4 linked regions of the Homo sapiens genome follow. The protein of the gene in region 1 interacts with the protein of each later gene in a pairwise test. Each region holds a gene or a part of one and is shown on either strand. Other genes may lie near its edges. The genes, in order: FOXO3, NR1H2, ESR2 and NR1H3.

The links.
Region 2: the proteins of FOXO3 (region 1) and NR1H2 interact in a two-hybrid assay, tested with the Homo sapiens proteins (one study listed by BioGRID).
Region 3: the proteins of FOXO3 (region 1) and ESR2 interact in binary tests that used the Homo sapiens proteins (3 or more experiments, as listed by UniProt).
Region 4: the proteins of FOXO3 (region 1) and NR1H3 interact in a two-hybrid assay, tested with the Homo sapiens proteins (one study listed by BioGRID).

What each region holds. Positions count from the first base shown.
Region 1 is NC_000006.12:108,563,910-108,570,932, forward strand, and holds part of FOXO3 (forkhead box protein O3), read left to right. Parts: intron 1-3,262; exon of another isoform or gene 3,263-3,640; intron 3,641-4,323; exon of another isoform or gene 4,324-5,833; intron 5,834-7,023. UniProt on the Homo sapiens protein: Transcriptional activator that recognizes and binds to the DNA sequence 5'-[AG]TAAA[TC]A-3' and regulates different processes, such as apoptosis and autophagy.
Region 2 is NC_000019.10:50,371,858-50,379,476, reverse strand, and holds the start of NR1H2 (oxysterols receptor LXR-beta), read right to left. Parts: upstream 3,021-7,619; 5' UTR 2,901-3,020; intron 2,759-2,900; 5' UTR 2,651-2,758; intron 1,891-2,650; 5' UTR 1,872-1,890; coding exon 1,829-1,871; intron 1,745-1,828; coding exon 1,607-1,744; intron 1,329-1,606; coding exon 1,038-1,328; intron 956-1,037; coding exon 681-955; intron 476-680; coding exon 296-475; intron 1-295. UniProt on the Homo sapiens protein: Nuclear receptor that exhibits a ligand-dependent transcriptional activation activity. Binds preferentially to double-stranded oligonucleotide direct repeats having the consensus half-site sequence 5'-AGGTCA-3' and 4-nt spacing (DR-4).
Region 3 is NC_000014.9:64,291,350-64,298,545, forward strand, and holds the start of ESR2 (estrogen receptor beta), read right to left. Parts: upstream 3,023-7,196; 5' UTR 2,684-3,022; intron 1-2,683.
Region 4 is NC_000011.10:47,260,974-47,267,996, forward strand, and holds part of NR1H3 (oxysterols receptor LXR-alpha), read left to right. Parts: intron 1-267; coding exon 268-476; intron 477-573; coding exon 574-753; intron 754-945; coding exon 946-1,045; intron 1,046-6,939; coding exon 6,940-7,023. UniProt on the Homo sapiens protein: Nuclear receptor that exhibits a ligand-dependent transcriptional activation activity.

The sequences.
Region 1 (7,023 bases):
CTAGTCATAAACTTTATGGTTTTATGTCATCGTTTTTTTGTCTTATGGTTTTTTTTTTTTACCCTTCTCTGCTATCTCATTTCTCTTCAACTAAAATCTTAGAAAATACTGTAAATTGAAATTCTCAAGGCTTAATATGCTTAATACAGGGCACACATTTTATGATTCTTTTACCTTAAAATTTTTTACCAATTCCATTTCTGAGTGTCACATGACAACTAATCCTTGACGACTAAAGGGATATAATTTTGTTAGAGTTTTTATAAGATGATCTTCATCAAAAGATGCAGCCATGCAGGAACTTTCAAATCTTTGATGATGGAGAAGGCCCTTTGAAACTGGAGCTGGTTTTATATTTTGATTATGACTAATAGGCAACCTTTTTTTGTGTGTGCTTGTGGTTTAGTGGAAGAAGAGGGAAAAGGGAGAGATCAGGAGCTAATTGTGACCCATTTCCAAGTGTCCAAGTTTAGGAGTTGATTCTTGTCATGATTAGTCATTTTGGAAGCACGCATGTGCATTTAAACCACACTACTTTCATTCTGAGTAATGTAAGAGGATTTTTAACTTCCAAAAATGTCTAGAATTCAGGTTAACGTCTCCTAGTCATGTGTGCATAAAGGGCACGGTATGCAGGGCCTTACTTCTTTTCAGGCTATTTGGGCCATTGCATTATGAGACCTTGTAACCAAAATTATCACCCTAACATCATAAAATGAAAGAATTAGAAAAGAGGACTTAGAGATCAGAATCTAAATCAGTGGTTCTCAGCCCTGGTTGCATGTTTGAATTACCTGGGAACTTCTGAAAAATACAAATACCCAGAGAATTTGATATAATTTGGCTTGTGTGTGGCTTAGCATTGATGGTTTTGTGTTTTGTTTTTTTTTTTCAAGTTTCTTAGGTGATTCTAATGTATAGTTAGGATGAAGTTTTCTGATCTAGTTCAACCCTCTTATTTTACTGGTGAAAAACCTGATTTTTGGAAAAGCTAATGACTTTCTTAAGATCACACAGCTAGTTAGTAGAGAGGTAATTAGTAGCCACAGTTCTAGAGGTTTTTGTTTTCCATTTTCTTCTTTAAATTGATCTTTTTTAAAAGGTCATTTGCTAGGTAATGGATAGTCTCACATAAGTAGCGCTTGCTTTCCTGAAAGGCTTATTTGCCTCTCAATCTAAAAACATCTTGCTTATTATTTCAGCATCAAAAGGATGGGCAAATGTAGATGGAGGCTGAGTGAGTGTATCATGTTTGCATAGCTGTCCAGTGCCTGTCAGTAGGGGTACTTAGGAACTATGAAGTGATAAAAGAGGTAAGAAGGATAGCATTTTAACAAAAAGAGGAAGCCCTTGGTTACTTACATTTGTCAGATACTGTGTCAGGGAGAAGGATGATGACTATCTCACAGGTTCCCTTACCTCGGGCATTAAAGTAGAAATGAACAATCAGATGTGGTTAAGAGGGGAAAAGGTTACATTTCCTTTAATTCAGATTAAGCTTGCACTGCACCCATGATTGAACAAGTGAGTTCTCTCAGTTCCTCTTGTCTTGGGGAGACCTCTAAGGACGCCAGGGCTTACCTGGTAAGGCCTATCTATCACTTATTTCGTTATACACAGCACACATCTGCTTTTCCCATGGGTCAGGGTGTAATCAAATTAGGCAGACTTGAGTTTCTGTAGTGGTTCCCATAATTTCACAAGTGTGGGGGATACTGTGTTAAGATTTCTGCTGCTGCTGCTGCTGCAGAAGATAATTCTTCAAGAGTCCGAGTCTTCTTTCATGTAAGAATGTGTATTGTTATGGCTTCTTGCCAAGATAAAAAGATGAGGGCTGTCCTGTCACATAATGCTTATTTGTGTCCTCACTGTTTCTGTTCTTTAGATTAATACATCCAGTTCCTTTTCAACACACTGTATTAGGAAAATGTTATTTTAACTGCAACTCTGTTTTAAATTTTTTTTTAATTTGAAAATGACTAAGTCATAATCATTCCACATTGGCTCATAATTTTGACCTCAGTCACCTTTTGGAGTAACTCACCAAAAGGCCAGTTATGGTCGTGTGTGAAGAATCTGTCTGCTTGGCCCGTGTTGCCAAAATGTCGTTTTGTAATTTCCTTTGGCAATAGTGTCTTCGTCAGTGATTCTCAACTAATATACTTCCTCTTTCTACAGCCCCAGTACACTAGAGGGACTGTTTTTCCTCTTTTTCAAAGCTGTGTCATTGACCTCTGAAGTGAAGAAATTGGCCCTTTTAGACTTTGATCTGTGAGTCCCATGTAACAGAGACTCTTTAAAAAAGAAGCTAAGTGTGTGTTTTGATATGTTTATCTCCTTCTTAGAAAATGAAATGAAACTACAGCAGACTTATTTTTAGGAGATTTTAGGAGTGTTCTATTTTAAGAAAATGACACCATACAAGAACATCTTTTAGTTAAACTTCTTAGTACTCTGCTTGTGATTCTTACTTAAAACCTGCAAGATACTTTTATTTGGAAAATTAATGAAGAGGCCTTGTCTCACTAATAAGTCATTTAATTTGGTCTGGCAAAAGTTTACCATCCATTCAAAGATCTTCATGAAAATGCAAAGATAAGGCTGTTTAGGCTTGAGCCCAGGAGTTCAAGACCAGCTTGGGCACATAGCAAAACCCCATCTTATTTTTTTTTTAAAGACTGTTTAGGCCTGTGCATTCTGGCAGGTTGCCCCACTTACCCAGAGCAGGTGCATCAGATTCCAGATTCCCAGGGCTGGAGAGAATATGGAATTTATTTTGTTTGTATACCCACTTATTTTGCCTATAGGGACAGACTTGACCCTATTCTCAACTCCTCATTTCTCTCCTTTTCCTGCATCACAAATTGAGGGGTCCTGAAGAGCCACTTTACCTTTTTGGTGCTATAAAAGGAGCTGGGGATCATAAATGCAAAGACGAGTTGATATCAGTGGATGTTACAGCTGGTATACAGTAAGTGAATGAAAGATTGGAAAGAGAAAACCCTTTTTACCCATTTGCATCACATCCCATTTCATGTATTCAACAAATGTTTATCAAAGGCATGCTGCTTGCAGAGCATTTGCCAGGACTTAGGGATATAGTGGTAGCAGAAGGCAGATAAAGTTCCAGTTCACTCACAGGAGTTCATATTCTGATGGAGGAGACAGAAAATAAGCTATAGCATATCTGTGCTTTGTGAATTTGTCATTGCTGCCTATTCCCGTTGCCTTTTTTTTACATCTGTATTTCTGCTTTCTCTAGTACTTCAACTCTGCTAAGAAGTTGCTGGGAAGTGGCAAATTTGATGTGGGGCATGGCTTGGAGCTAGCCTTTAACTCTCTGCAGATCATTTTGAGCTTGCTTTGGAGATGCAAAACCACCGTACCATGGCTCCTGTGGATTGGGTCTGTTTGGGAGAAGCTTTGGTTTTCCAAGCTCCACCTGGATTAGATAGAGCACATCTTTGGCCCTGGACTGATCTGGGATCCCCAGTTCTGTCTCCCAGGGCCTGATGTAGATCTGGCCTTCCTCTGGAGTGGATGTGGAGCCTTGATGCCACTGACTCATCTGTATTACTTGTTGCCTAAAACTCAGAACTAAAAGAGATCTTAAAGATCATCTAACTACCTTATTTTGCAGGTGAGAAACATGCTAGGACTATGTGAGTGACTGGGTTCAGGGTTCCACAGCTAGTAGGGGTGGAGTAACGGGTGTGTCCAGTCAGTGCAGTGGTTCATGCCTATAATTTTAACACTTTGGGAGGCCAAGGCAGGAGGATTGCCTGAGGCCAGGAGTTTGAGACCAGCCTGGGCAACAAAGTGAGACCTCGTCTCTACCAGAAAAAAAGAAAACTAGGCCAGGTGCGGTGGCTCATGCCTGTAATCCCAGCACTTTGGGAGGCCCAGGTGGGTGGATCACCTGAGGTCAGGAGTTCGAGACCAGCCTTACCAACATGGTGAAACCCTGTCTCTACTAAAAGTACAAAAAGCTAGCCGGGCATCGTGGCGCATGCCTGTAATCCCAGCTACTAGGGAGGCTGAGGCAGGAGAATTGCTTGAACCTGGGAGGCGGAGGTTGCAGTGAGCCAAGATTGTGCCGTTGCACTCCAGCCTGGGTAACAAGAGCGAAACTCCATCTCAAAAAAAAAAAAAATTAGCTCTGTTGTGGTGGTGCATGCCTGTAGTCCCAGCTGCTTGAGAGGCTGAGGCAGGAGGATCCCTTAATCCCAGGAGTTTGAGACTGCAGTGAGCACGACTGCACCACTGCACTCCAGCCTGGATGACAGAGTGAGACCCTCTCTCTCTCTTTTTTTTTTTTTTTTAAAGCGTGTGTTCATACCACTGTACTGTAGTGTCTACTGCCTACCATTGTGGTTTCACAGCTGTTCATCTCAGTGCTGTTTGCCTCAAGTTCTTCAAGCTCTTCACTTGCTGTCTTCTGCTTCTCCTCCCCTCTTCTAGGCTAGCTCGCACTGGAGTCGCTGTGTTTCTCCTTTTGTGTTCTCCATCAGCACTCTCTACTTACCTTGCTAAATGCCTTTTCTTTCAACGCCACCTTACCCTGCCCACCCCATGGCTGCTACCTGTTTATTTTGTCATTTTGCTAAGACTGTTGAATATTTTTAAGCACAGTATAAGAGGCTTTAAATTAGGGAATGTGTCTGCCAGACAAATAAGTGTTTCTAATATTTGGAGCTGCTTTTTGGATTTTATAATCAACCCATATGGATAGCCTTAGTTCTGGGGCTGTGACTCTGAAAGGGGCTGATGTGACTCAGGAGTGAGCTGGTGTCATGAGTGGAGTCTTTTGGATACTTGCAGCTCTGAAGGTGGCATCAGCTTTAGACCTCCTAGCATCGATGTTGATGTGATGTGGTGTAAATGTGAGATGATGCTGTGCTATCTGGGGTTTCTTGCAGTGCCTTGTTACCCAATGCATAAGTCTCTGAAAACTCCATAAGTGTCCATCACTACTTACCACAGAAACTGAAGGAAGCCTGATCTTGGGATGACCTTGTTGCATTAAGAGAAAAAGGAAATGAAGTTTGCCATCTGTATGTAAACCCGCTATTTGTATCATCAACATGCAGTGTCGAGAAAGTCACCATAGAATTGTTTTGCCTAAAGTTTATTTTACTCACTTTTAGGAACAAAGCTGTTATGTAAAGCCTTAGTTGTTTGTAATGTTCTGCATTTTGGGGCAGAAGTCCCAAATGTACTTCAAGTTTTCTGTCCATGGATTGGGAAATAGAAGTCATGTATGAAAGGAGAGGAGATAGCAGACAGTCTTTGAGATGAACTATTTCAAGGACCAGTCTGCAGTTCTTCCAAGTTAGAGTTCTGAATATGTGGTTAGGCTAGTGATGATGATAGAACACCCCAGTTCTGACTGCATCATTGCCCAGACAGACCCAGTATCTTTCACCATTTTATTCCTGACCAAACAACGTTCATTTCCCAGTATCTTAGTCTCTCCTAAAGGAAAAAGAACTACGGTAGCTGGCATCCATAGAGTACTGTGATGTACCACTCTTGGTAAAACGGAAATGTCTGATTGGAGTGTGTTTCAAGCCAGGCTTTTCTATAATTCGCTTGTTCCACTTTTCACTCCTGAGTTTTTGAGGTTTTAATCTTGAGACTTTTTCTCTGCAGTGCCTCAGTTACTACTATGGAATAACATAATAAGCGAAGAGGATGACTTCTCTGCTGGGCTGTGGTTCTTCTAGTAATTCCGCTACTCCTGGGTCATTGCCTGGGGTGAGGAGGCCAGGTTATCTTCTGGAGGCTCACCACACCTTGGTGTCCAGATGTGCCCTAGGACTGCAGTGGAGAGGTGAGCACAGAGTAAGGAAAGCATGTGGCACATGTGTAGGGGGCAAGGCTGGAGCAGGAAGTAAACTCTCCCCCAAACAAACAAATAAACAAACAGCATACATTACCTTCCTTCTGGAGTGAACCTATAGTAAACCCAACAGAGATGTGTTTGGCAGTTTTCAGTACGTGTTTAGGAATTTGTTTGAAAACCATTAGGGGGTGGGGTGGGGTGGAAGAATCCACATCATGTTTTCCCTTGCGTGGTTTTTTTTTTTTTTTTTTTTTTTTTTTTTTGAGACAGAATCTCGCTCTGTCGCCTAGGCTGGAGTGCAGTGGCGTGATCTTGGCTCACTGCAAGCTCCGCCTCCTGGGTTCATGCCATTCTCCTGCCTCAGCCTCCCAAGTAGCTGGGACTGCAGGCGTTCGCCACCACTCCCAGCTAATTTTTTGTATTTTTATTAGAGACGGGGCTTCACTGTGTTAGCCAGGATGGTCTTGATCTGCTGACCTCATGATCTGCCTGCCTCGGCCTCCCAAAGTGCTGGGATTACAGGCATGAGCCATTGCACCCGGCTCCCTTGTGTATTTTTATTTTAAATTTTTTATTTGAGACAAGGCCTTGCTCTGTCACCTAGGCTGGAGTGCGGTGGCACAATCATAGCTCTCCACAGCTTCAAACTCCTGGCTCTCTCTGTAGAGAGCTATGATCCTCCTGCCTCAGCTGCCCTAGTAGCTGGGACTACTAATGAGCGCCACGACACCCAGCTAATTTTATGTTTTTTTTGTAGAGATATGAGGTCTCACTTTGTTGCCAGGTTGGTCTCAAACTCCTGGGTTCAAGCGATCCTCTTACTTGGGCCTCCTAAAGTGCTGGGATTATAAACATGAGCCCCTGCAACCAGCCTTCCTTGTATTTCAGATGTCTAGTGAAGTTAGTTAAGTTAGCCCTTGAAGGTATTGAGAATTTACTTTAAATTCAGAGCCAGCAGAGGGAGTACACAAGTCTTTAAGCTGATGTCAAGTATTTTTTTCTCCACACAGCTAAAATAATACCTTGATTATTTTTTAAAGAACTCTGATATATAGTGTTTCCATGTAAGTTTATTGTCATCATTAGAAAAGGAAAATTTAGGAGAGGGGGTGTGGAGATTAAAAACTTAAAGCAAGTGTTTTAAAGGAAACCCTGGTCTTCTAAGACCCATGATTTAC
Region 2 (7,619 bases), on another chromosome or scaffold:
ATAGAGCCTGGCATACAGCACGTGCTCAATACTTATATGTTATCCCTACTTTGATTCAAATGCTAACTCCTCTGAAAAGCCTTTTTGGCAACTTTTCTCTGCAATAGCGCCTCTAGCCTGATCCTCAATTTTCTCAGCCTCAGACCCTTTTTCCTTTCTCTCCTTGGCTCATAGAAGACTCTATTCGCCGTGGAATGTCATCCTACAACGGCAAGCACTGGTCTTCCTTAACTCTGCTCCCAGCATCTGTCCTGGAGCTATCTCTGGGGTTCCTTGTGGGCAGATGGACCATTACCTCGATAGTGGATGCCTTCAGGAGGGCGATCTGGTCCTCCCGGCCCAGCTGCAGGAAACCAGGCACTTGCTTAGCGAAGTCCACGATCTCCTGGACTGAGATGATGGCCAGCTCCGTGAAGTGGGCAAAGCGTTGCTGGCGGGCATCTCGGGACTGGGGGTCTGCGCCCAGGGGCCAGGGCTGGGACACAGGAGACCAGGGTCACTCCCAGGTCTTTGTGAGCCTAAGTCTGGGTGGCCACCTTGAGGCCAAGCCTGCACCCTGGGGGATCCTCTTCCCAAAGCCCCTGCCCTCTGGAGCCTCATTCTCCCACACCCTGGGTGATGGCCCAGCTGGCTCTACCCCATTGGGACCGTCACACTCAAGGTTGTGGAGGGGGCAGTACCGTGACTTTGGGCTGGTCGGAGAAGGAGCGTTTGTTGCACTGCAGTTGGGCCGCCACCAACTGCTGGATCATTAGTTCTTGAGCCGCTGTTAGCTGGACACCCTCGCCTTCCCCGGAGCCCTGGCTGCCTGCCTCAGATCCACCAGGGGAAGCCCCAGGCCCAGAGGCTGAGCTGCTGCTGCCCTGCGGCCCCACAGGTGACTGCGACTGTGACTGTGACTCCTGCTGCTGTTTCCGAATCTTCTTCTTCCGGATCTGTTCTTCAGAAAGGACGCCTGTAGGGGGATGCAGGCCTCAGCAGAACCCCAGGGCTAGGCGGGGGGCCAGGCCGGCACCGCCCCCTCCCGCTGCACTCACACTGCTCCCTCATCCCTGCCTCCTTGCACTTGCGCAGCCGGCACTGCTGGCACTTGCGCCGCATGAAAGCGTCCATCTGGCAGGTTCCGCCACCCCGGCAGGCATAGCGCCTGGCCCCACCACGGACCACACTGCGCCGGAAGAAGCCCTTGCAGCCTTCGCAGCTGAGCACGTTGTAGTGGAAGCCGGAGGCCTTGTCCCCACAGACACGGCAAAGCTCGTGGCCCAGCATCTTCGGGGCTGGGCCCTTCTTTCGCTTGCGCTCTGGTTCCTCTTCGGGATCTGGGATGACTGGGGTGGGTAGGTAGAGGCCATGAGAAAGCCACAAGGAGAAACAGGAACCAGAGAGATGGGCCCACAGGAGATCCCCAGGCAAAGAGCCAGAGGATGGAGGGAGAGAGGAGTTGCTGCTCACATTCAGGGAAATTGCAATTTAGAAAGATGTATATGTTAAGGAGAAAGCAAGAACAAAAAGCAAAGATCAGGGCCTCCCATTCCCATTTCTATTTCTTTCTCCCTTCCTAAACCCCTCCCCAAGCCCCCACATCAACTCCAGGGCCCTGTCTCACCCCAGTCTGTGCTGCAGGCTGAGCTGGCCTCATCAGTGCCTGGGACATCAGGGTCCGGACCCCCGGGCCACGGCTCCGGACCCTCCTCCTTTACAGTGGGTGAAGAAGAAGGGGCGCCAGGCTGAGGGGGGCCATTTCCTGGAAGAGGGTGGAATCCGGGAGAGGTACAGTGAGCTTCTGCTCGTGTGTGATAAGGGCTGGGTGGGGAAGAGAGTCACTCACCAGGCAGGGGGGTATCCAGGGAACTCGTGGTAGGAGAGGACATGGTGGGGTCACGGAGCAGCCTGTAGAATACAGGGGATTGAGAGCCTTGTGGGGCTAAGAAGGGTTAGGTTAGGTCAGTTACAGGTCCTGACAGGGCTTTCCCTTTTTTTTCCATCTCTCCAAAGACCCTACTCTCAGCCACAACCCTGGTTCCTGCCAGCCTACAAACCCTCCCCATCCTTCTAACAAGACCTGCCCCCTTCTGTTCCACGCCAGCCTTCAGCTTGGTCTTAAGCCCCGCCCCTGCTGTAGGCCCCGCCCCCTCAGGTCCAATCCACCTGCTTTTTCTAGGTAGGGCCCATTCTCCTTTAATCATGCTCTGCCTTCACGGCCTCCATGCCATGTAGTTTCCCCCCACCTCCTCTTCTTAAGACTCTACCTCACTTCTGCCCCAAGCATCCCTATTTCTCATTCTGACCCCACCTCCTCCTACTATGCTCCGCCCTCAACCTTCCAGGTTCAGCCCCTAAAGCCCCCATCATGGGCCTCCCAACACCTTGCCCCGCCCCATATGCATCCCTCCCTCCAAGCCTCACCCCCACAACCTCGCTCCAGGTCCCCATCCCCTCCCATCATGCCCCGCCCCCGCCCCGCCTCCTCCCTTCCTACTGCACCCCCACAACCTCGCTCCAGGCCCCGCCACATCTCCTCCCATCATGCCCCGCCCCCAGCCCCGCCTCCTCCCTTCATGCCCCGCCCCCGCACCGCGCTGCAGGTCCCGCCCCATCACCTCCCATCATGCCCCGCCCCGCCTCCTCCATTCATGCTCCGCCCTCGCACCTCTCTCCAGGTCCCGCCCCTCTCCAAGCAACAGCGGGGGGCGGGGCTCATGGCTGCGCGCGGGGGTCTCGTGGACGGCCTCTCGCGGAGTGAACTACTCCTGTTGCCCTGGAAACAGCCGCGGGAGGCGCGAATTACCGAGGGGAGGAAATGGAAGGAGAGAAGGGGGCAGAGCGGAGTACGCGGGGAGCGCCGAGAAGCCCCGGGTTCGGGGCTCCTCCTGCGTCTCCCCACTCTCGGGTGCACCTACCTGGGTTCCCTTGCTCTGCTTTTCTTCGTCCTCCTCTTTAGCCCCTGACACACCGCCGCTACTCAAATACCCTCAAAAGTAACTTCGCCACTTCTTCCGGCAACCCCGCCCTTGCGTCACGTCCGGAAGAGGGGCGGAGCGTGAAACTTGACGAACTTCCGGTCCGCTTAGGACCAGCCGAAGCTGCTGCCCCGCACGGAAGTTGGAAACTCACCGGAAGTTTACCGGGTAGATCTACTGGGACTTGGCAGAAGAGTTCCGAACCCATTTCCTCGCTTCTTGGGAGCCAAACCTCCAGCCCCGCGCTTTGTGGCTTTAGCTCATTCATGCGCTTCTCTGAGCCTGCGGCCAAACCCTAGCTATAGCTGCTTGTCGCACATGACTGATTTAAGGCACGTTTGCACTTTTTTGGTCGTTACAAGTTTTCTGATTTTGGAGTCGTGCTGCTTGTTAGTTTTATTTATTTTTATTTATTTATTTGGAGAGGTCTCACTCTGTCACCCCAGACTGGAGTGCAGTGGTGTGATCTCAGCTCACTCCAGCCTCTGCGTCCTGGGTTCAAGAGATTCTCTTGCCTCACCCTCCCAAGTAACTGGGATTACAGGCATGTGCCACCACGCCCGGCTCATTTTTTTGTATTTTTAGTAGAGACAGGGTTTCGCCATGTTGGCGAGGCTGGTCTCGAACTCCTGACTTCAAATGATCCGCCTGCCTCGGCCTCCCAAAGTGCTGGGATTACAGGCGTGAGCTGCGGCACCGGGCTTATTTTTACTTTTTTTTTTTTGAGATGGAGTCTCACTCTGTTGCCCAGGCTGGAGTGCAGTGCCGCGATCTCAGCTAACTGCAACTTCCGCCTCCTGGGTTCAAGCGATTCTCCTGCCTCAGCCTCCCTTGTAGCTGGGATTACAGGTGCCCACCACCACGGCCGGCTAATTTTTCTATTTTTAGTAGAGATGGGGTTTCACCATGTTTGCCAGGCTGGTATCGAACTCCTGACCTCAGGCAATCCACCTACCTCGGCCTTCCAGAGTGTTGGGATTACAGGCGTGAGCCGCTGTGCCTGGCCAGATTTGAGATGTCAGAATTTTCTCATTGTTAAAATTTTGCAAAAATGGTTTCAATAACTTGGTGATTGGAAGAATTAAAAAAGCTCAGTCTCGGACCGGGCGCGGTGGCTCACGCCTGTAATCCCAGCACTTTGGGAGGCCGAGGTGGGCAGATCACCTGAGGTCGGGAGTTTGAGATCAGCCTGACCAACATGGAGAAACTCCGTCTCTACTAAAAATACAAAATTAGCCAGGCATGGTGGCGGGCGCCTGTAATCCCAGCTACTCGGGAGAGGCTGAGGCAGGAGAATCGCTTGAACCCAGGAGGCGGAGGTTGCGGTGAGCCGAGGTTGCGGTGAGCCGAGATTGCGCCATTGCACTCCAGTCTGGGTAACAAGAGCGAAACTCCGTCTCAAAAATAAAATGCAATAAAAATAAAGGAATAAAAGAATGGCTACTCCAGGTAGAGCAGCGGCTTGGGCTGTTCACTGTGATTATACTTATAGTTATTTCTTGATTATATACTAAACAACGGGTGGATTATTCATGAGTTTTCCAGGAAAAGGGTAGGCAATTCTCAGAATTGAGGGTTCCTCCCCCGTTTAGACCATATAGGGGAACTTCCTGACGTTGCCATGGCATTTGTAAGCTGTCATCGTGCTGGTGGGTGTGACTTTTAGCATGCTAATGCGTTATAATTAGTGTATAATGAGCCATGAGGACGGCTAGAGGTCACTCTCATCGCCATCTTGGTTTTGCTGGGATCTGGCTGACTTCTTTACTGCATATGCTGTTTTATCAGCAAGCTCTTTGTGACCCGTATCTTGTGCCAACCTCCTATCCTATCTCATCCTGTGACTAAGAATGCCTTAACCTCCTGGGAACGCAGCCCAGTAGGTCTCAGCCTTATTTTACCAAGCTCCTATTCAAGACAGAATCGCTGTGGTTGGAATGCCTCTGACATATGTGTATGCCTTTATAAAAAAGAAATGGGACTATGTGATCCATGCTCTTCTGTAACTTATTATGTCTACTCAGGCCCATCGTTTGAGATTGTGGAATTTTCCACCTAGGGATGTTAGAAGCGAAACAAGTGATTAACATGAGCGTTGGAAATGGCAGAACCTGGTGTCTCTGTCACTTCCTTCCTGTGTAACACTGAGCCCAGTTCCTTAACCTCCCCGTGCCTCAGTTTCCTTGCCTGTAAATTGCAAACAGGAGTGAGAAAGCCGGGCATGGTGGCTCATGCCTGTAATCCCAGCACTTTGGGAGGCCAAGGCAGGTGGATCACCTGAGATCAGGAGTTCGAGACTAGCCTGACCAACTTGCTGAAACCTGGTCTCTACTAAAAATATAAAATTAGCCGGGCATGGTGGCGGGCACCTGTAATCCCAGCTACTCAGGAGGCTGAGGCAGGAGAATTGAACCCGGGAGACAGAGGTTGTGGTGAGCCAAGATCTTGCCATTGCATTCCACCCTGGGCAGCAGGAGCAAAACTGCATCTCAAAAATAAAAAAATAAAGGCAGGGCACGGTGGCTCACGCCTGTAATCCCAGCACTTTGGGAGGCCAAGGCAGGTGGATCACAAGGTCAGGAGTTCAAGACCAGCCTGACCAACACCATGAAACCCCATCTCTACTAAAAAAAATACAAAAAAAATAGCCAGGCGTGGTGGTACGTGCCTGTAATCCCAGCTACTTGGGAGGCTGAGACAGAAGAATCACTTGAACCCAGGAGGCGGAGGTTGCAGTGAGCCGAGAACGCGCCACTGCACTCCAGCCTGGCAACAGAGTAAGACTCCGTCTCAAAATAAATAAATAAATAAACAAATAAATAAAAATAAAAAAATTAAAAAGAGTGAGACAGGAGGCTAGGCACAGTGGTTCATGCCAGTAATCCCAGCATTTTGGAAGGCTGAGGCAGGCAGATCACGATGTCAGGAGATGGAGACCATCCTGGCCAACATGGTGAAACCCCATCTCAACTAAAAATACAAAAATTAGCTGGGCGTGGTGGCACGTGCCTGTAATCCCAACTACTTGGGAGGCTGAGGCAGGAGAATCTCTTGAACCAAGGAGTCAGAGGTTGCAGTGAGCCGAGATCGCGCCACTGCACTCCAGCCTACCGACAGACTGAAACTCTATCTCAAAAAAAAAAAAAAAAAAAAAAAGCGAGACAGGAATAACACAGGGTAGTCACAGGAGAATAGAAAATTCCAGGCAGCAGTTTCACATGACTAGCAAAAGGAAACTGTTGAAATAGTTGCAGCAGGTGGGGGCTGATAAGACTCTTGAAAACCCTAGGTGTGGACCAACCTGGCTAAGACACATTGGACCCAACAAGGCCCTACATATGACCTAGGTCTCACCTAGGACCTCGTTATATGCTCATTAACATAAACACACACCCACCAGCACCAGGACGGTTACAGGAACACCCATATTTGGTGTAAAAGTGGGTGGCACCACAGTTCTCAAAAATCTCCTTTTTCTAGGAATCTTCATGAATATTCCACTCCTTGATTAAAGAAATCCATAGTACATACCTGTAGTCCCAGCTACTCAGGAGACTGAGGCAGGAGAATCGCTGGAACCCGTGAGGCGGAGGTTGCAGTGAGCCAAGATCGTGCCACTGCACTCCAGCCTGGGGACAGAGCAAGACTGTCTCAAAACAAAAAGAGAGAAACCCATTAAGGTAGCAGCCCCAAACCCCCCCTGCAGGAGACTCTCTCTGGAGTCCACCTGTACTCCTCTTTGTTGAGTGTGTACTTTTCACTTTGCAATACATCTTTGTACTTTCAGTATTTTCCCACTTGTCCTCAAGTTCCTTCCCGAGATGGTGTCAAGAGCCTGGACATTGGCTGGGGTGGAGGTCCCACACCAGCATATGGGGACTTCCCCTAGCCCACCGGGATCAAGAGTATGACCTTGTTGCCTTACTCTTATGACTAAATGAGGTAAAAGCATAAACAGGGTGGGTTTCAAATGAGGTGCCTGATATGGTGGAACTGTATTTATATTTATTTATTTATTTATTTATTTTTTTAAGATAAGATCTCACTCTGTCGCCCAGGCTGGAGTGCAGTGGTGCCATCTTGGCTTATTGCAGCCCTGACCTCCTGGGCTCAGGTGATCCTCCCACCTCAGCCTCCAGAGTATGTGGGACCGCAGGCATGAGCCACCACACCCAGCTAAGTTTTTACATTTTTGTTAGAGATGGGGTTTCGCCACGTTGCCTAGGCTGTTCTTGAACTCATGGACTCAGGCGATCTGCCCACCTTGGCCTCCCAAGGTGCCGGGATTACAGGCATGAGCCTCTCATCCAGCCTGTATTGATTCTTGTGGCTGTTAAAGTAGTTCTAAGTTTCCACTGTTAGAAAAGTGCAAGAGTCCTGAAATAGGCTGAAGAGGAATTACAACACTTTTGGGACGAGTCACATTGCACTCAGTCTCGGTTGACCTACTGGTAAATAGGATAAATCGTTCTTCCTTTTTTCTTTGAGTTTTGCTCTTGTCACCCAGGCTAGAGTGCAGTGGCCCAATCTTGGTTCACTGCAACTTCTGCCTCCCGGGTTCAAGTTATTCTCCTGCCTCAGCCTCCTGAGTAGCTGGGATCACGGGTGCGCACCACCATGCCCGGCTAATTTTTGTGTTTTTAGTAGAGACGGGGTTTC
Region 3 (7,196 bases), on another chromosome or scaffold:
CCCTTCATTTTCAAGACCTGTCATAATTCCAGCTAGGAAGGCCAACTATCCAGTTTGCTAGCTCCTCATAAACTTGCCACTCTGCATATCCTAGTTACTACCACTGTAACTGGGTATGCAAGGTAAGTTACATATTTAAAATACAGGCTGTTTTTCATAGAACAAAGGAAAAAGGAAAAAGACATCAATTTTATATATATATATGTTAGCAGTACCTACCAATAACAGGCTCCTAACTGTATACTGAATTGAATACTGTGTTAAACAGTGAAAAATATTAGTTTACAAAAGGTTATACATCTCCACCCTGCAGGAAAATCTAGACTTCAAGACATGAGCACAGAAATTTAAAAATCCTGACATCTACAAATAAGTTGGACACAGACCTAAGCCCCTATGAAGATAAATATTTTACCTTCAGCAATTGTAATCACTCTGCATTTTAAATGTCTTCAATTTGTCATTTTCAATCCCTGTTTTGCTTCTCACTATTTGATAATATGCAATTTCAGGTAGCTTTCTTAATCTCAGGTATAATGAAAAGTAGTTTTTTTTTTAATAAAGAAGTTTTAAAATTCAAAGATTATAAAAGAATGATGCATTCTATTAATATGATATAAATAACTTTTAATGGCCTTGTATTTCAATTCAGGATAACTAATGATATATGCCATAACCAAAGGCTTAAACCACAATAGAATCTAAATCTGCTAAGAACTAAATCTATTAGCCCTATATGAATTTAACACTTAGTCCAAGTCTCAAGTTTCCCATTTGCAAATAGCATTGTCTTTGCCTTGATTTATCCCAAGGTACTAGAATTAAAAATAGCACAAACTGACTCATCCTATAAAAAGGGAAAAACAGGTTTTTCTTTCAAAAGAAGTAAAGGAAAATATGTCTAAGTAAAAACGTACTAAAGAGCAAAACCACATAATCATTATGTAGTTTTGATCAGTGATTTTCAGGGGCAGTGGGGTAGGTAGAGGTACAAAGGGGACTTTTGGGGTAATGGAACTGTTCTGTGTCATGTGTGCGGTGCTGGTTACATGACTGTGCATCTGTCAGAATTCATAGAGGTACATTTACAGAGGCTAAATTTTACTGTATGTAAATTATACTGCTGTAGCCTAATTTTTTTAAAGTGCTATTGCATATAAAACAATGTGCTAGACACTGAATTATGAAATCTAACGTTCAAGCATACAATTCTCAAGGTTTCTAGATGTATTATCAAAAACTTATCATTAAACACTTTGAGTTCAGCCTTCAGTATTTTATATTTTATCCATATTTATATTCTATAAAACGACTCAAAGCATCACCTAAAATTATCACATGAATTTTGAATTATTATGTGTTCAACATACACTTATAGAAAATTTCCTTCTTATTCTTAAAAGTGAACATATCAATATCTATTAAATGTTAATTATATGGTTATGAGTTGAATTTACTACTAAATTCTACCTTTTCTGAATTATAAATACATTAAGAAATGTAAACTGTGATTAGATTTATTCACATCCCTCAGAACACTACGAAATGTGTCCTAAACATGTTAATTGATTTCAGAAACTTCTATGTCTTGAGCAAGACTTAAGTGTTAACAAGCATCTGATGGCTTTTAAAATAAGAATGTTTCAGAAATTCATCTAAAAAAATGCTTGAACGTAAAATGCAATCCTACGGTGTATACTCTAATGCCTGTTGATGAACAGATCCTTATAGTTTCCTTCTTCTAGAACTCATATCAAAATACATTTTCTTCAGAAAAAATAGGAGTCAAAGATGTTAATCATGTTCTTTTCATAGTCACGTTACATTTGTTTTACAACACTCTCAGAAAAGCCTTTCCTTTCACATGTTCACTTTTTAAATTACAAACATGTTTCCCCTCACTAGACACCGAGTTACGAAACTTAGAGCAAAAGTAAAACTTTCTAATGGAATGCCCATGTAAATACTAGAAATATAACAAAATAAGGCAAAGTCTGTCCTCCAAAATGTTGCCTACCACACCAAAACACAATCCTGCTTTTTAAACAGCGAGTAAAATTAAATCAACCTTATCTTCCTAAATAGAAGTCCACTCAAAGTTTTTTCACAAAAATGACATTCACTTGACTTAATATTGTCCTTCCAATAAGAATAACACGCAGGGTGTTAGAGGGCAGTTGTTGGACTCCTCTTCAGCAAATAAAGGAGACCAGTTAGAGCTTAGCTTGGTCTGCCCAGGAAAGGAGGAACGCAGCTTGCTGACATGGCTAAGGAATGCCAATTAATACATTTTAAAACCCCTATCATCTTGCCTGAGACGTGTACATCTTCCCAGGCCCTCAAAGTTCAATCAGAAAGTGTATTCAACTCCATTGTCATTTCACCCATAGTGGGGAAGTCCATCGAGGAAAACCATAGGGAAATAAAATGTTTTTCAGTTATTCATATTAGCACAATCAACCCAGAGCTCACGGCACAAACTAAATAAGTTAACTTGCCAGTGTCTTGAATGAAGACATTTAATCAAAGCATGCATTTTCCAACTTTCCAGTAGCTTTCAGGACAGTTGGTTTTGGTGATCGTTTTTTGGTCTTTTATTGTTCTCAACACGACTGGTTTCTCACCGCAGGATTTCAAACAAAATGAGACAATTAAACCACACCTCGAGCGAAGGGGCGCTTACCTTGCAGATAAACACACCGGCCTTGCCTTCTCTAAAATGCGGACACGTGCTTTTCCCGCATTAGGGGGGGTCTCCCGGCGCGCGCCCCGCCGCCACCTGTTGAGGAAAGCGAGCGCACCTCCTGCAGCTCAGGCTCCGGGCGCCAGCCCTGCCCCGCAGCCCCAGAGCCCGTCGCAGCTCGGGTGGTCCCTCCCCGGCCCAGCGCTCGCCGCCTGCTCTTCGCCCTGCAAGTTTCAAGAGGCAGTTATTTCTCGCAGCCTCCGCGCTTGCAACTGCCTCCTGGCGGGGGAGTGGGTGTCCAAAAAGCCAGCAGCTGGAGAAACTGAAAAGATCACAAGCGACTTAACGATAAGCCCCTTCTTCCTTTTAAAGACCGAGAGGAGGGTAGAGGGGAGTAGTGCCTGAGCCCACGTGACCGAGCCAGGGAGCCCGACGGTCTCAGGAACGCCCGACGCCGCGCGTGACCTCTAAGTGGGAGCACCCTCGAACCGACTCCTGGTCCACCCACAAGGATAGTGGCGCACAGATGGCGCTCCCCGCAGCCCCAGTCTCAGATTTAAGAGGTCTGGAGTAGGGCCTGAGAATATGCATTTCCAACCAGGTCCTGGGGGATGCCGACACTGATACAGCCAGTCTGGGGACCACACTTCGAGGATCACGTCCTCAGCCCCTGACTCACATAAGTGTCATTCAGAACAGATGTCTGATTCTAAGGAGCCAGTGGTGAAACCAGAGAGGCTTTGGGTTTGTCAAATCCCCAGCAGCAAACGTAACCTCGGGCCCTGGAGTGGCAAAGCCGTGGACTAGAGGTGGAGGGAGTGGGTTCTCAGCTCTCAAGAGGTCACTGGGAAGGCCTTTCGCGTTAGATCAAAGATCCCAGGTACTTCCTCGAACTCACTTGAAGTGGCACCGGGGAGACCTGTGCCTCCGGCCACGGCGCCCTTCTCCGCTGGAGGCACCTGCCCACCCCTCTTCTCGGGCGAAGGCCCCTCGCGCCCCCTGGTGGCAGCCCCAGTTCCCCCAGCTTAATGGGGTGTTCCCCTCACCCACCCCAGCAGGAGCCCCAGGGTGCGAGACTAGGACCACAGTCTTAACTGGCTTTAAGGCAGCTGTTGCTGATGAAAATGAAAAGGAAAGTAGCATGTGACCCACAGGCCATTGTGAGAACCCCCCAGTGTCACATCTGTGCCTAATTAATCATCAAACCATCTACTCAGGTGGCATAAGGGACATGGTTTTTGAGGGTTGTGATCCAGATCTCTAATAGAGGAAGACGAGGGGGGGCATTTGGAGGGAAAGTTTTACAGTACCAGCCTCAGCTGTTTGGTGTTTAGCCAAAATAGAGAGACGCAAGTGTGCTCTGGGTTGATAAAGATGAGGTCCACAGGTAATGAAGACAGGCTCCAAAGATGGAGAAGCATCTGCTTCATCAGCTAAACAATAGCTGTGAAAAGTCTCCACTGCCCCACCCTAAGTCCAATTTTCATTAAAGCTGAGAGTCCTGGTTTCTCTCAGGTTGAAAGGCAGAGTCTCCCTGTCCTTGAGGCAGAGAAGTTAGTTTGGACGGGAAGAGTGTGTCGCTGGCAAATAACTGCAGCAGACAACATGCCAATCTCAGCCTCCCTGTCTCCTGTCCTGGGGTCTCTCAAAGTACCCAGTCCCCATATGCTCTTCCTCCTTGCCACCTTATGGAGAAAATGTTAAATGATGGTTTAAAAAAATCAGCTTCATGGCCAGGCATGGTGGCTCACACCTATAATCTCAGCACTTTGGGAGGCCGAGGCAGGTGGATCACGAGGTCAGGAGTTTGAGACCAGCCTGACCAACATGGTGAAACCTCGTCTCTACTAAAAATACAAAAATTGGCTGGACGTGGTGGCACATGCCAGTAATCCCAGCTACTCAGGAGGCTGAGGCAGGAGAATCGCTTGAACATGGGAGGCGGAGGTTGCAGTGAGCCAAGATCGCGCCACTGCATTCCAGCCTGGGCGACAGAGCGAGACTCTGTCTCAAAAAAAAAAAAAAAAAAAAAAATCAGCTTCATTTGGTGGTATATACTTGTTAACAAGATATCTCTGGAAATGGAAACCGTCATGAAGGAATTTCAACCATAAGCCAACAGGCAGAAAAAGATAGGTGAGGGTGAAGAAAATGCATCTATCAATATTAACATCATACCTGACGCTGTGCTAAGCACCTGCACAGCATCTCATTTAATCCTCACACCAGCTCAGTGAGATATTGACTCCACTTTTCCAGTGAGGAAATTGAGGCTCACAGAGCTTCTGTCAGCTACCTGAAGCCACCTAGTGAGAAAGGAACCCAGTAACAACAGTGGCTTCATAGACAGCTACCGCTTATTGGACATTTATGCCCCGCTTTCTCTCAATAATTCTTATTTTATACGCAAGCCTATAAGGCAAATTCTATTACCCCCATTTTATACTTGAGAAAATGAATGTTCAGGAAGGTTAAACAACCTCCCTATGGTCACATGACCTATCAGTGGCTAAGAAGGACTTGAATCCAGGAGAGAGGCCAAGGACCCATTTACCTCCATACCATGCCTCCAATCAATCAGAATGAAAATGGCTTGACTCTCTGCTCTATGCAGAACACTGCAGACAAACTTCTGCCACCTGTGTGCCAAGCTTCTGCTCTGTGTTCACTGTGATGCTTCCTTCAGAAGGCATTCTACACACAGGAACAGCATGTTCTCTTTTCAGAGCAGCTCAAACACCCACAGAAGCTGTTTATTATACAAGGAAACCTCACTGCAGGAAATAATAAGCAGAAAATGAATGGGAGTGAGTAAGTTTCCTTCTGACTCACCCTGTCCATCAAGAAAGACAATGGTACCCAGAGATGGAAACTTTGCCTGGTTTAATGCAGAGTGGAGAGGATGATTATTCCAATTCTACCTGAATTGTGACCACAATGATGAAGGGATTATTCTTGAGGCAGTTCATACCAATGGCTAGACCAAAAAGCCCCCTGAAGCCTGGTATTGAGAACGATGCCTGCTATATAAGTGAGCAGGGTCCCAGCCTCATTTCCACCTCACCCCTGACCTGCCTAAGGAAGCACCCACATATGACATTGAAAGGACTGCCTGTCTCCAAAATATCCTACAATGGGGATTGAAATTGTCACCATTAAGTCATCTTTTGGGGATAAAGCATTGAATTGTTAAAATTAAGTCATGTTATATATGATGGGTAATATTAACTTACTAGCATTTATGATTAACAAGATGAGCTTGCAGCATGAGCTAGATGTCACCTGGGAAAGCAAAGGAAGTCAATGTAGTACAGGTATGGTTTGCTGTGAAGAGGAAGGAAAGCCTCTCCATAAAAGGTGCACCTTCCTCATCTTCTCACCCCACCCCTTCTCTGTCTAGCAAAGTCTTACACATCCCAAAGCCAAGAGCCTAAATAAGGTGAAGAGCACATTAGCCCAGTGGAACGTGCACATTGGCTCCCCCACAGCCCTCATCTTACCTGTCAACACAACCTGCGCTGCGATTGGACAGCGCATGTCTTACATCTCTAGCATTCTCCATGGTCCATAACACCCACCTAGCACAATCCACGCGTTCAACAAATGTTTGCTGAAGCCTTTGACTTGGAAAGATCAGAGGGAGAATTTTCCGTAGGAAAGAAACTACCAAGAGGCAAAACAAAACCCTGTAAAAGGCAAGAAAGCAAAAGCTAATAGGAAAAGTGGAGGGAAAGGAGGAATGCTACAGATGTCTAGAAGGGTGTCATGCCAAAGGGTGCCTTTGGATTGTTGCTTTATTCTCTGAGCTTGAAGCCAAGTAGGAGGATTTGGGTTCTGGGATAGTTATCTGCTCCAGAGTGTTATAGGAACAAGCTTATTTATATTATGTGGGTATAAATTGGTCTGTTTTAAGAGAATCTGAGAGATAAAACCCTACACTTATGGAATTAATAAAGGGGAAAGATTAATTGAACGTGCAATAACACCTTTTTTTGGTGGTGATGAATGAAAAAGATAGGATTACTAATTAATATGTCAGAGATCATCTCAACTGAACATAAAGTTCACAAAATGTGATTTGACATTTGAAACTTGAATTTGGATAGAGCTCTTTAGGATCACATCTTTTGTAGAAATAAAAACAAACCTAATATTTATTGAGCATTTTTCTAGCCTGGACACCACAGTAGGCAGGCTTGCATAGGTTGATTCACTTTTATTTCATTTAATCCTTGAAAATTCCCTGGGACTGTCTATTTTACAGATGGGAAAACTGAGGCTCAGAGAGCTAACATTTATTTTATAAAGTCACCCATGTGCATTTGGTAGGGTGAAAGTTTCCACCCAACTTTACCTACCTACCTGCACATCCCATGTTTTCTCCACTGTCATGAGATGCTGTTCTTATTTGTTGCATAAATGGAGGCATGTCTGTCCTGTAGAGCCCAGATACTGTTGAATGAAATGTTGTCAATTTCTTGTCTAGGAATGACCACCTATGAGCATATTTATG
Region 4 (7,023 bases), on another chromosome or scaffold:
ACTCAAGAGACTGAGGCAGGAGAATCACTTGAACACGGGAGGTGGAGGTTGCAGTGTGCCAAGATCATGCCACTGCACTCCAGCCTGAGCAAGTGTGAGACTCTGTTTCAAAAAAAAAAAATCTTCTTGCCTTTACCCAGTGCTGTCTGCTTTTCTGGAGCCCCAAACCACCCCCTTTGCCCCATCCTTCCCTCCTGTCTTTCCCCCACCCCCTTGCCCCATCCTTTCCCCATCTGCTCCCTTCCTCATATTTGGCCCTGTCCTTAGGTGTCCTGTCAGAAGAACAGATCCGCCTGAAGAAACTGAAGCGGCAAGAGGAGGAACAGGCTCATGCCACATCCTTGCCCCCCAGGGCTTCCTCACCCCCCCAAATCCTGCCCCAGCTCAGCCCGGAACAACTGGGCATGATCGAGAAGCTCGTCGCTGCCCAGCAACAGTGTAACCGGCGCTCCTTTTCTGACCGGCTTCGAGTCACGGTACTTGACACACCTGGGGAGAGGCGGCTGCGCCCAGATCACCAGTGGGCTTCTTGATGTCCGACTCAAAGCGCTTTGCCTTTTCCCTCCTGGGTAGCCTTGGCCCATGGCACCAGATCCCCATAGCCGGGAGGCCCGTCAGCAGCGCTTTGCCCACTTCACTGAGCTGGCCATCGTCTCTGTGCAGGAGATAGTTGACTTTGCTAAACAGCTACCCGGCTTCCTGCAGCTCAGCCGGGAGGACCAGATTGCCCTGCTGAAGACCTCTGCGATCGAGGTGGCTGGAGAAGGGCAAGGGATGAAGGGAGAAGCAGAGTGGGATTATCTGTGGGAGGGGCCTCCAGACATCGAGCTGGGAGAGCCAAATCTGCTGGGAAGCAGGGATGAGGAGAATCGGCCTCCCTGGAAGAGGCCATGCTCCAAGACCAGCCCTCCTAGTCCCCGTTTGAGGTTTGCTGCTTGTGTGCAGGTGATGCTTCTGGAGACATCTCGGAGGTACAACCCTGGGAGTGAGAGTATCACCTTCCTCAAGGATTTCAGTTATAACCGGGAAGACTTTGCCAAAGCAGGTGAGAACTGAGATCACACAGGGATTGGGGTTGGGTGGACAGATGCTTCTTTTTTTATTTTTTATTTTTAAAAATTGAGGGCCAGGCGCGGTGGCTCATGCCTGTAATCCCAGCACTTTGGGAGGCCGAGGTGGGCAGATCACCAGGTCAGTAGATCAAGACCATTCTGGCTAACACGGTGAAACCCTGTCTCTACTGAAAATACAAAAAATTAGTCAGGCATGGTGGCACGCGCCTGTAGCCCCAGCTACTTGGGAGATCGAGGCAGGAGAATCACTTGAATCTGGGAGGCAGAGGTTGTAGTGAGCCAAGATCGCACCACTGCACTCCAGCCTGGGCAACAACAACAACAACAACAAAAATTGAGATAGAGTCTTACTATGTTGCCCAGGTTGGTCCCAAACTCCTGGCCTCAAGTGATCCTCCTGCCTCTGACTCCCAAAGTGCTGGGATTACAGGCGTGAGCCACCCACCATGCCCGGCCAAGTACTTTTTTTTTGTTTCATTTTTTTTTTTAGACAGAGTTTGCTCTGTCACCCAAGCAGGAGTGCAGTGGCGTGATCTTGGCTCACTACAACCTCCGCCTCCCGGGTTCAAGCAATTCTCCTGCTTCAGCTTCTCAAGTAGCTGGGATTAGGTGCACCACCATGCCCAGCTAATTTTTGTACTTTTAGTAGAGACAGGGTTTTACCATGTTGACCAGGCTGGTCTTGAACTCCTGACCTTAAGTGATCCATGTGCCTCAGCCTCCCAAAATGCTGGGATTACAGGCATGAGCCACTGAACCTGGCCAGGACTGGTGCTTTTTGTCAGAGGCCCATAGTGACTACAGAGCCACAGGCCCAATGTTTGGGTGGCTGGTAAGGGAAGGCTCCCTTGTTTTTTGAAGATAGAAAATTGGAATGCTGATAGGCTTCTCTCAGCTGCTCCAGATAGACCCCTGTCCTCTGTTGCTTTAGGTCAGTGGTTTTCAAACTGTATTCCAAGGAACCTGAGAGATATATGGAATGGCACCTTGGAGGAGAAACAGGGAGGCACAGGAATGTCCTTCATCTTTACTTTAGCCAAACAAGAAGCTCCATTTAAATCTGCATTATATATTGCACTGCTACATAGTATTTTGCTTGCAGATTTTACAGCTTGAAAAAAAAGTTTGAAACTCAGTGCACTCAACTTTTTAGTAGTCAAAAAGTGAACAAATCTTCCTCACATGTGCTCTTTGGGGATCATGGGGGCTGATTTCCCCTACTTTTTTTTTTTTTTTGAGATAAGTTCTTGCTCTGTCACGCAGGCTGAAGTGCAGTGGCATGAACGTGGCTCACTGCAGCCTCAACCACCTGGGCTCCAGTAATCCTCCTGCCTCAGCCCCCAAGTAGGTGGGACTACAGGCATGCACCACCATGCCAGGCTAATTTTTATATTTTTTTGTAGAGAGTGGGTTTCGCCATGTTGCCCAGGCTGGTCTCAAAATGGTCTCGAACTCCTGAGCTCAAGTGATCCACCCACCTCGGCCTCCCAATGTGCTGGGATTACAGGCATGAGCCACCACACACAGCCTCCCCTACTCTTTTTCTTTTTTTTTCTTTTCTTTTTTTTTTTTTTTGAGATGGATTCTCACTCTGTTGCCAGGCTGGAGTGCAGTGACGCGATCTTGGCTCACTGCAACTTCTGCCTCCCGGATTCAAACGATTCCCCTGCCTCAGCCTCCTGAGTAGCTGGGACTACAGGCGCGCGCCACTACGCTCAGCTAACTTTTGTATTTTTAGTAGAGATGGGGTTTCACTGTTTTGCCCAGGCTGGTCTTGAACTCCTGAGCTCAGGCAATCCGCCCGCCTTGGCCTCCCAAAGTCCTGGGATTACAGCCATGAGCCACTTGTCCAGGCCCCTCCCCTACTCTTTTTCAATTGCACTTTCTGACGAACCAGAACCATGGCATGGCAAACATGCCCAGAGAGGATGTACAATAAGAGCGAATGCTTCCATCTCCATCCTATATCTGAAGTATTTTCTCCAAAAATTAGTTCATTCTGCGGCTCTCTATCTGATGCTCGCTTGGGAGCTACGCAGAAGGGGTTTCTTCATATTCAACTATTGATAATGTTTGTATCATGAGAACTGGCCTGGGAAAGGACGGGAGGCTGAGGGAGTTTTGGAGGGACTGGAATTGAGCTTCAGCAGGAAACCAAGTAGCTTAACGACTGGATGAGTGGGGCTGTAAAATATGGCTGATGCCCTGACTCCACTCTCAGGGCTGGTAGATCTGTGGCCAGGCCAGTCATCAAGCCTTCCTTGGTTTCTGATAACTCAGGCCAGCTCACGTGCCTCTTGCTCTCCCAACGCAGTCCACCCAGTGAGCTTTCTAGGAAGGCCACTCTTCGCTGTAGGGCATAACAGGGCTATGTTGGCACCTTTTGCCTTCTATAGTAACCGGTGTGCTGCCTGGATGTATTGACACCTAATGGGGTGATTTAATGACTTTATCCAGCTTTAAAGCCCAGCCCTGCTCCCCTCTTCCAAACCACTTTTTCCTCGATGGTTATTATCTCAGACCTTCTTAACCGTGGCTCTCCCCTCCTTCAGAATATCCTCCTTGTGGAACCCTGCCCAGTTCTAAGATCTTTGTATTCCTTTGGCACTTGTAGACTCATGCTATCTGAATCTGCACCTATTCATAGATTTATTTATACAAGCAGTTTTGAAGTAATCATGCTTGCATTTCTTATTTCATGAGTGAGGTCTTGGGGAGAAGGAACAGGAGCTCTGCTTGTCAAGTCTCCTCCCCTCCCTATCCGCTACTATTTACTGCATGCAGTAGATAACTGGTGACATGGACTGAGCACATTTGAGGTGTTCATTCCGTGGGCATCAGCAGACCCTCAGAGGTGCATTAGCTAACTATAGAACCTCCTCTTAATTTCTCTATAAAGGGGGCTGTTTGCCACACTTTGGGGCTCAAAACCTCACCAAGAAATGCTTTAGAAAATGGGGCTTGCCGCCGGGCGTGGTGGCTTACACCTGAAATCCCAGCACTTTGGGAGGCCGAGGCAGGCGGATCACCTGAGGTCAGGAGTTCGAGACCAGCCTGGCCCATATGGCAAAACCCCATCTCTACTGAAAATACAAAAATTAGCTGGGCGTGGTGGTGCACACCTGTGGTCCCAGCTACTCAGGAGGCTGAGGCAGGAGAATTGCTTGAACCAGAAGGCTGAGGTTGCAGTGAGCTGAGATCGCGCCACTGCACTCCAGCCTGGGTGACAGAGCAAGACTCCATCTCAAAAAAAGAAAAAAGAAAAAGAAAATGGGGCCTGCCCATTAAATGGACCAACACACAACACTTGATAAACATCAGGGTGAAAGTACAGGAAGTGACTCACCAAGAAGCCTTGAATGGAAAAGTGTAGCAGATGGTTGCTAAAAGAAATCTGACAAAGCCTGGGGAACTCTGTAGGGTGCAGAGACTTTGACAATGTGTATGAGAGACATTCTCTAGGTATCATTACTTTAGCTCATGTTTTGTTGCATTTTAGTCTTCTCAGCAGGAAGACTGTTTCCAAGAAAAATGTATTATTTATTGACCAGGCGCGGTGGCTCATGCCTGTAATCCCAGTACTTTGGGAGGCCGAGGCAGGCAGATCACGAGGTCAAGAGATCGAGACCATCCTGGCCAACATGGTGAAATCCTGTCTCTACTAAAAATACAAAAATTAGCTGGGCGTGGTGACATGCACCAGTAGTCCCAGCTACTCAAGAGGCTGAGGCAGGAGAATTGCTTGAACCTGGGAGGCAGAGCTTGCAGTGAGCCGAGATCATGCAACTGCACTCTAGTCTGGCAACAGAGCAAGACTCTTTGTCTCAAAAAAAATTTTTTTATTTATTTTACAAACACTTATGTGGTAGTTACCATATATGCCACATATTTATGAGATAGGTACTATTATTATTCCCATTTTACAGATGGGAAAACCAAAGCCCAGAGAGGTTAAATAACTTACACAAGGTCACACTGCCTTGTAAGTGGTAGAGGCAGGACTCAACCCGAGGCAGTCTGGCACCAAAATCCACATCCTCACCCATACTGCAATATTCCCTCGAGGATGTGATACATGAAATGTATCTCTAGTGTTCAAATAAGTAAGGCCAATGCCAGTGAAAAACAAGTCTTTTTTTTTTCTTTGAAACAGGGTCTCGCTCTGTCGCCCAGGCTGAATGCAGTGGTGTGATCAATCATGGCTCAATGCAGCCTCGACCTTCTGGGCTCAAGTGATCCTCCTTGAGTAGCTGGGACTACAGGTGTGAACCACCGTGCCCTGCTGAAAAAGGATTTTTTTTTTTTTTGAGCCAGAATCTTGCTCTGTCGCCCAGGCTGGAGTGCAAGTAGAACAATCTCGGCTCACTGCAACCTCCACCTCCCAGGTTCAAGCAATTCGCCTGCTCAGCCTCCCGAGTAGCTGGGACTACAGGTGCGCCACCATGCCCAGTTAATTTTTGTATTTTTAGTAGAGACCGGGTTTCACTGTGTTGCCCAGGCTGGTCTCAAACTCTTGAGCTCAGGCAATCCGTCTGCCTCGGCCTCCTAAAGTGCTGGGATTATAGGGATAAGCCACCGCATCCAGCCTTTTTTCTTTTTCTTTTTTTTTTTTTGAGATGGAGTTTCGCTCTGTCATCCAGGCTGGAGTGCAGTGGCGTGATCTCGGCTTACTGCAACCTCCGCCTCCCAGATTCAAGCAATTCTCCTGCCTCAGCCTCCTAAGTAGCTGGAATTACAGGAGTGCACCACCACGCCCAGCTAATTTTTGTATTTTCAGTGAGACAGGGTTTTGCCATGTCGGCCAGGCTGGTCTCAAACTCCTGAACTCAGGTGATCCCCCTGCCTCGGCCTCCCAAAATACTGGGATTACAGGCATGAACCGCCGTGCCTTGCTGAAAAACGATTCTTGATAAACAAAAATAAGAGTTGCCTCTATTTCTAGAAATGTGGAGCCCTCAAGAATTTTAATGACAGAATTGGCAGGTGATGGTGTCTGGTGCCTGTAATCCCAGCACTTTGGGAGGGCGAGGCGGGTGGATTGCTTGAGTCCAGGAGTTCGAGACCAGCCTGGGCAACATGGTGAAATCCTGTCACAACTGAAAATATAAGAATTAGCTACTTGTGATGGTATGCACCTGTAGTCCCAGCTACTAGGGAGGCTGAAGTAGGAGGATGGCTTGCACCCGGGAGGTCGAGGCTGCAGTGAGCTGTGATTGTGCCACTGCACTCCAGTCTGGGTGATAGAACAAGACCCTGTCTCAAAGAAAAAAAACAAGAATACCAGAATTATTATTTAATTCAGCACCTCTTGTGTGCCAGACACAGCGCTAAGTGCCCTGCATACTTTGTCATTGAACTATACCAACAATTTTCTGAGAAGGGTTCAGATATGATTCCCATTTCACAGATGAGGCTTATAGAGGGGTTAAGACATTTGCTCAAGGTTACACAGCAAAGCCTTGTAGACCTTTTTTTTTTTTTTGACGGAATCTCGCTCTATCGCCCAGGCTGGAGTGCAGTAGTGCAATCTTGGGTCACTGCAACCTCTGCCTCCCGTGTTCAAGCAATTCTCCTGCCTCAGCCTCCCAAGTAGCTGGGATTACAGGCACCTGCCACCACGCCCGGCTAGTTTTTGTGTTTTTAGTACAGACGGGGTTTCGCCATGTTGGCCAGGCTCTTCTCGAACTCCTGACTTCAGGTGATCCGCCCGCCTCAGCCTCCGAAAGTGCTGGGATTACAGGCGTGAGCCACTGTGCCCGGCCTCAGTAAACTTCTTAGTGAGTTCCTAATAGTTCCCTAAGGTGAGGAGAGAAGAAAGTTCCTGCTGCTCCTGCTGCTTGCGTCAGCCTCCCTTCTTCCTCCCCAGGGCTGCAAGTGGAATTCATCAACCCCATCTTCGAGTTCTCCAGGGCCATGAATGAGCTGCAACTCAATGATGCCGAGTTTGCCT